Homo sapiens: one gene and its partner. The protein of the gene in region 1 interacts with the protein of each later gene in a biochemical or structural test. Each region holds a gene or a part of one and is shown on either strand. Other genes may lie near its edges. The genes, in order: BMPR1A and USP15.

Evidence for each region.
Region 2: of the proteins of BMPR1A (region 1) and USP15, one has a biochemical effect on the other in vitro, tested with the Homo sapiens proteins (one study listed by BioGRID).

Annotation. Positions count from the first base shown.
Region 1 is NC_000010.11:86,885,335-86,889,160, reverse strand, and holds part of BMPR1A (bone morphogenetic protein receptor type-1A isoform 3 precursor), read right to left. Parts: intron 1-3,826. UniProt on the Homo sapiens protein: On ligand binding, forms a receptor complex consisting of two type II and two type I transmembrane serine/threonine kinases.
Region 2 is NC_000012.12:62,263,404-62,267,229, forward strand, and holds part of USP15 (ubiquitin carboxyl-terminal hydrolase 15), read left to right. Parts: intron 1-3,826. UniProt on the Homo sapiens protein: Hydrolase that removes conjugated ubiquitin from target proteins and regulates various pathways such as the TGF-beta receptor signaling, NF-kappa-B and RNF41/NRDP1-PRKN pathways.

The DNA of each region.
Region 1 (3,826 bases):
GGCTGGAAGCAGAACGGAACTAAAAAAACTGTTCTAGTAATTACTTCCTCTCTCTGACTCAGCTAGGCCATTCTTTGTGGGTTACTCTCAAGGGAATGAAAGGTGGAACCAAACAGACAAGTGTATATGTATTTCATTATGAATGTTAAATAAGTGGTTCAAGACACAACACAGACTTGATTTTACATTTACCATACTGATGAGATAAACTACTGAAAAGACAAAAAATATCACATATGCACACACAGGTAACAGAAAAAGTGCTGCTAAATAGTGTTTTGATGATTACATGCCTTCAGTTTCAATAATTTTCACTTTTTTTTTTTTTTTTTTTGAGACATGGTCTCACGCTATTGCCCAGGCTGGAGTACAGTGATGTGATCAGAGCTCACTGCAGCCTCAACCTCCCAGGCTCAAGTGATCCTCCCACCTCAGCCTCTGGAGTAGCTGGGACCAAGGGCACATGCCACCATGCCCGGCTAATTTTTAAATTCTTTGTAGGGACAAGGTCTCCCTATACTGCTCAGGTTGGTCTTGAACTCCTGGGCTCAAGCGATCCTCCCGCCTCAGCCTCCCGAAGTGCTGGGAATATAGCCGTGAGCCACTATGCCTGGCCAATAACCTTCACTTTCTTATACCGAATATTTAGTAAAAGAATTTGCTACTGAATGAGTATAGAGAACATTTTTATTTGAGATAGAGTCTCACTCTGTCACCCAAGCTGGAGTGCACTGGTGCAATCTCGACTCACTGCAACCTCCGCCTCCCAGGTTCAAGCAATTCTCCTGCCTCAGACTCCCGAGTAGCTGGGATTACAGGCACCCCACACAACGCCTAGCTAATTTTTTTGTATTTTGTTGGTAGAGACAGGGTTTCACCATGTTGGCCAGGCTGGTCTCAAACTCCTGACCTCAAGTGATCCACTTGCCTCAGTCTCCCAAAGTGCTGGGATTACAGGCATGAGCCACCGTGCCCGGCCAGGAGAGAAAACACTTAAAAAAAAAAAAAAAAAGCTGGAAGTTTGTGTACATACATATATTACTCATCCCCGCGCCCCCCACACCACTCTCCTTTCAGAAATAAATTCCGTAATATAATGTCAAGGCTTCCGTTGGATCTGATTGCTACAAAGCGGAAAGACCTCCTTTATGTTAGAAACATCAACTGTAAAAGATGGGGTGGGGGAAGCAGGAGGTACAGGAAGGGAAGAAATCCACTGAGCAGGAAATGAGGAGACTGGGATTCTGTTTTGCCATGGGCCTACCCCGCTTTACCTAGCTGGATGGTCTTGGGCAAGCCATGTCACCTTTCCAGGCTTCATTTACTCTATAAGGCTACAGGACTAGAGGACAGGTGAGGGAACCTGACCAGCTTTAAAATCCTATTACATTAACAGAAGACACGTATCAATTCAGCTCTGGAAAACAAACAGTATATAATATATCACAGCAACTGATTTTTCAAAAATCTAGTGACACAGAAAAAGCAGTTTAGTGTGGCAGAAATATCACTTGAGATAACAGCAAGAAGTGAAGGGTTCAAGTCGCAGTTACGGGCACAGATAAGTTACTCTCTGAACCTCAGCTATCTATAGAAAATGGGGATAATAATTCCTGCCTAATTCAAATCAAGAGGTTATAGGTAGATCAAATGAATATTTACTAAAGTGCTTAACTACATGTAAAATAGTATACAAATGAAGATGTTACTAATAACAAAGATCAGAACACTAAAAGATCACTGATACATGAAAAAACTCAAAGTTATATGAAACTTCCTAGAATACTATTTGAATTCATGAGACAAAAAACTCAATTACAGTAGTTGTATCTGGAGCTTATGTTATTGCCAAATATTCAACAGAATACTTAGTAGGGGTCTATTATGTGCAGGCAAGGTATTAAATGCTAGAAACGCAAAGATGTGGCATCAAAACCACATATGTGGCCTTGAGAAACTTGGTGGAAAGCAGAGGGGGAATAAGCACAAAAGCAAATAAATACAATGTGAAAAGTGACAAAATACAAAGGCCAGGCGCGGTGGCTCACGCCTGTAATCCCAGCACTTTGGGAGGCCAAAGTGGGCACATCACCTGAGGTCAGGAGTTCAAGACCAGCCTGGTCAACATGGTGAAACCCCGTCTCTACTAAAAATATTAAAAAATTAGCTGGGCGTGGTGGCAAGGCGCCTGTAATCCCAGTATTCAGGTGGCTGAGGCAGGACAATCACTTGACCTGGGAGGTGGAGGTTGCAGTGAACAGAGATCAAGCCATTGCACTTCAGCCTGGGCGACAAGAGCGAAAATCCATCTCAAAAAAAAAAAAAAAAAAAAGTGACAAAATACGGAGGTGTTTACATGTAAACAAAGGAAAAGGCTCATCCTAGGTGTCAAACTCAAACTGATCTTAGGTGTCAAAAGTAATGAAATCTAAGCTACATCTTAAAAACTTGCAAGATTTCACCAAGCAGATATTGAATACAAAGAAAAGTAACAGGAAAGAGCCTCTCTGTGCTCTCCCTAGGGGACAGCGCCCACTCTGTTGATGGTTCCTGGATGTACCCCCTCTAGCCATGACCTGCTTAGACATCTCCTGACTGACTTGTCTTAAATGAACTCTTGATTTGCCTCAAACCTGGTCTTACCAAAGTCTTTTGGCTCAACCTCCAAAATGTATGTCAATTGTTTTCATTTTTCTCCAACTCCGCTGTTGTCACCAAGGCCCATCACATCATGCCTCTACTAAGGTAAGAAGTCTCCAACTGTTCCCTCTGCTTCTGCTCTTGGTCCCTGCAATCCATTTTCCACAGAGCAGCCAGAGACATTTTATAAACACAAATCTGTCACTCCTATATAAAACCAATCAATGGCTCCACAATGCACTCAGAATAAAATCCAACCTCCACTGTGTGCTCCCAGGGCCCAACAGGATCTGGGTCCTGCAGGCCTCACCATCATCACTTTACTTGGCACATGGCCTTCTGTCAGTTCTGAACATGTCAATCTCTCGCCACCCACAAGTCCCGTGTATTTACAAAGAATAAACTACGAGCCCTGGGGTGGACTGGGGGTATAGGTTATATTTCAAAACAAACACACACAAAATATTTAATAGCTTACATGTTTAAGTATAACATCTCAGGAAAAAATGAAAACATATACATACAAAGAGACAAACAGTTACAAGAGACACATGACCATACACAGGCACATTTACAGGTCCTTGTCATCAACAGCAATTTTTGGCATCAATGATTTTACTAGATTTTTATTCCTGGCTAAGTAATTTTTCATATTTTCCCAATAATTTATTGGCTTCCTTTTTCTACAGCAAATAAATGCCCTCTGCCGCAACCTTAAGATAGAATGTCTACAACAGAACTCAGATGGCAAACGGTTGGTGAGACCAATGGGCTACTGATGCACTATACATATGAGATAATCAGCAATGGTAGCCTAATGAATTCTGCAACAACAGTCTGCATCATTAATTAAATAGAAACCAGGAAGACATCAGCAGAAGGAAAGTCAAGTACAAGGAAGCAAGAACTAGGGAAAAGGTGGCATGTCTACAACTGTGCTGTCCCATATGGTAGCCACTAGCCACATGTGACTTAAAATGTAGACGAATTAAAATGAAGTAAAATTAAAAATCAGTTTCTCACCCACACTAGTCACAACTCAAGTGCTCAAAAGCCACATTTGGCTAGTAGCTATCACACAAGACAGCAGAGATATAGAAAACAGGTATTGGTTTTGTGGGCCCCAAGGTCTCTGTCACAACTATTCAATTCTGCCGACACAATGCAAAATCAGCCAGACAACATG
Region 2 (3,826 bases), on another chromosome or scaffold:
TGCAGATAATGACTGTCTCATGGTAACTCGGGTAACTAACTTCCATACCTAGGCAAGTATAAAGATTTATTTCATTCTGTGTAAGTACTACAGTTTCTCTTTATTTGTAAGCAGTGAATGATTTTTATCTAAAAACTGATTTTCTAGAGATGAAAATAAGTTACACAAGTGTGAGATGAAGAGAAACATACTTTATGATGTATTTAGTTCTAGACTTTATATTGAGAAGTAAATCAAAATTAATACGAGAGTAATACCTTTTTAAAAAGCAAGAAGAAGGTAGCACTGATTTGTATAAGGAATAAAGCAGTCTCAAAATGATATTTGTTGATCTGTGTTTCAATTTCAACAAGAGATCAGAAAAACACGAACAAAATTTAGAGTTTAGGAACTATAGGAAAGAGATAAATGAACTAGAATTGTATCGCTTAGGATGAATTAAAAACAATTTTCAGATACATGGTGGTTTCTTCTGATGAGACAAAAAGATAATTTGCTTAAGGTACATATGAGTATTTTAGGAACATATTTAAGGAATGGTAGTTAATGAGTTACAAAGAAAATTATGGGTTATAAAATACTCTCTTTGGAAAAAAAGTTTTTGAAACAGAGTCTCGCTGTGTCGCCCAGGCTAGAGTACAGTGCGTGGTCTCGGCTCACCGCAACCACCTCCAGGGTTCAAGTGATCCTCCCACCTCAGCCTCCGCAGTAGCTGGGCCTGCAGGCACATGCCACCACGCCCAGCTAATTTTTTATTTTTAGTAGAGACAGGGTTTCCCCATGTTACCCGGGTTGGTCTCGAACTCCTGGCCTCAAGTGATCTGCCTACCTTGGCCTCCCAGAGGGCCGGGATTACAGGTGTGAACCACCTGCAAAATTTCTGGCCTGGAAATTTTTAAAGAAATGGGCCTATTATGAGTAAGTAAAACATAACCACAAATCATCCAAAGCACTGCTTCGTTTCCACCATTTTTATTAAATGTTATTCATCTGCCAATCATTTTCAGTAATTTTTATGTGTGATTATGTTAAGTGGTAATGTGTAGTTAACTTTTGCAGTTTAGCAAAACATTGCATGCCATTTTTGTATAAACCCTAATAACTGTAGTAGGTAACTTTACAGAGTAAGTAATTTGTGTGTGAAGTCATTTAAAATCTCTGTGACATTTTCATTTCAATAATTGCCAAAGAATCTGATCAGTGAAGTTTTAGACAAGAGACATTGATTTCAGTTTTTAGAGCTTTCTGTCCATTCCGACTTTTACTTAGAAATCTTTGAGGCTTAATTTTATTTGATCCCTTATGTTCGTGCAACTTTGAAACTAAAAGAAAATAACCTTATACTCACAAATCCCTTAATAATGAAAAGGAACACTATTACTCAACATGAATTTCAAAATATTTAGTGTATACTTAAAGAAATTTTTATATTACTATTACTTTTAAAATTAGTTTCAGTAGTGCCAGGGTGTTTACGACCAGAGTAGGGTATATACTACATCATTTATAGGAAATGAAACTAAAAGGAAAAACTTCTTCAGTCTTGGTAAATTGGTGAAAACAAGGACAGAGATAGTGACCTTAAGGCATGTTTCACATCTTAGATGCTTAAAAATCTAGGAAAGCAACTTTTCTTAATTTAAGCCTTTTTCGTAAGTTTTTAAATGACTTCTGTTAGTGAGTCCAGGGTTAATGTACCCTAATAGTCCAGGAAGGTCCAGAGCTAGTCAATGATTTCGTTTATCTGTTTTGTGAAATTAAGGCTTTTTTTCCTAAATTATACCATTTTCCTGTTAGCACATATAAGGCATTAAATGACCTTTTTGCAAAATGGTTTTGTGACAGTTAACAATTTTGCTTCTACGTAAGTGTAACAAGATAAAATCAGTTTGTCAGGCCATGACCTGTAATATTACATTTAAAAACACTATGTGCCAGGTACTGTTATAAATGCATATTGACTTATTTACTCATCACCATATTACCACAATTCTGGGAATCGGTGTTATTCACATTTGACAAAATAGGAATCATAGGCTCAAAAAGGTTTTCACATAGTGGTATAGCTGGGATTTGAACCCAAGTAGTTTAGGTCTTTGGTTTGTGCCCTTAAAGCACTGTACCACATTGCCTCTGATTTTATTTAAAAAAATTTTTTCTAGAGACAGAGTCTCGCTTCATCACCCAGGCTGGAGTGTAGTGGCATAGTCATAGCTCACTGTAGCTTCAAACTCCTTGGCTCAAGCAATTTTCCTGCCTCAGCCTCTGAAATAGCTGGAACTACAGGTGTGCGCCACCACACCCAGCTAATTTTTAAAGTTTTTGTGGAGACGGGATCTTACTGTGTTGCCTAGACTGGTTTGAAACTCCTGACCTCAAATGATCCTCTGACTTCAGCCTCGCAAGTATTAATAGCTGGGATTACAGGTGTGAACCCCTATGCCCAGCCTCTGTCTCTTATTTTAAAGATTCATTTTTTAAAAAGTAGATTCACTTTAAAAAGAAAAGAACCTATTTTTCTTTTTAAAGGAAGTCTATTTTATATTTAGTAGCAGAATTCTACCATTTGCCTCTTGTGACTGTTCAGTTTAGATATGATAGAACATGTAGGAAATCTTAACACCTTGCTTCTGGATATTAAAACATGCTTAAAGATTGATAGGTGAATAATTGAATGTACAGAGCAAATGTCATTTTGATCCACAAGTACATTCAGACAAAAAAATTTGAGGTCATTTACTATTGAGCTTTTGAATTTTAATTGTCTATCAATAATCATAAGCTCTTATTAGAGATGATATGGCCCCTTCACATATAGTTTTACAGAAATAACCCATGAAGCATATAGTAAGATCTTGTAGGCTATTTTGTTTCGGTACTTGGTCCATATTTTAAAAGTATGGTATTGGTTTACTATAAGCCACAAATACATACGGCTTTCTTCTTGGACTTAAATCCATATGAACCACTCAGCACAGAAAATGCAAATATGAATGCATTATTATGTTCACCAACTGATTTTTTCCCTAGAGATAACTCTTAAAGAATTTTTGAAGTGAAAGAACATTTAAATTAAGATAGTGGAAGATACAATGATAATAAAACAGTCAATTTTGCTATCTTAGTCTTGAATTTATCTTATGATGTGAGTTTAGAGTGATTCTTCTTTTTTTCACTGAAAATCACTTCATTAATAAGTCATGATTATTGACAAAAGTAAATTGAAACCATTGGGCATATTGGTAGGGAAATAAGGGGAAGATAGAGAACAACTGATAAAGGTTGATTATGTGCATTACGAGATTTGATCCTCAAAAGAAGGACCAAAATATATATATTTATATGACTTATAGATGAGGAATCTGAGAGAAATTAATTTGCTTGCTCATAGTTTACTACCAGCGGACATTTATTAAATGCTTAGTCTGTCGCAGCCACTATTTTAAATGCTTTACACTTACATAGCCTTTAAAGTACATGCTCTTATTACACTTCATTTTATCTTTGATGATTTCAGAGCTGGTTTAAATACCTGGTTTATAAAGATTTAAAGTACTAGATACTATCTAATACTAAGAATAGATCCTTAGTATTAAAAATGGTTTTATGCTGTCACTACTCGAATGTAATTCAAACAATATTTCATTAAACCATGGGAATTTCTCTTTTTTCTTAGTCCTTGTATAGAATTTTTCAACAATTACTAAATACTTTTTTTCTTCCCTGAGTAATGTCAGTCTAGCTTGTTTCTTTTAATTTCCTCACTTACCACTGTAATTCACATTCTGTGTCTCATATTCATTCCTCTGAAGCCACTTCGCCAGAC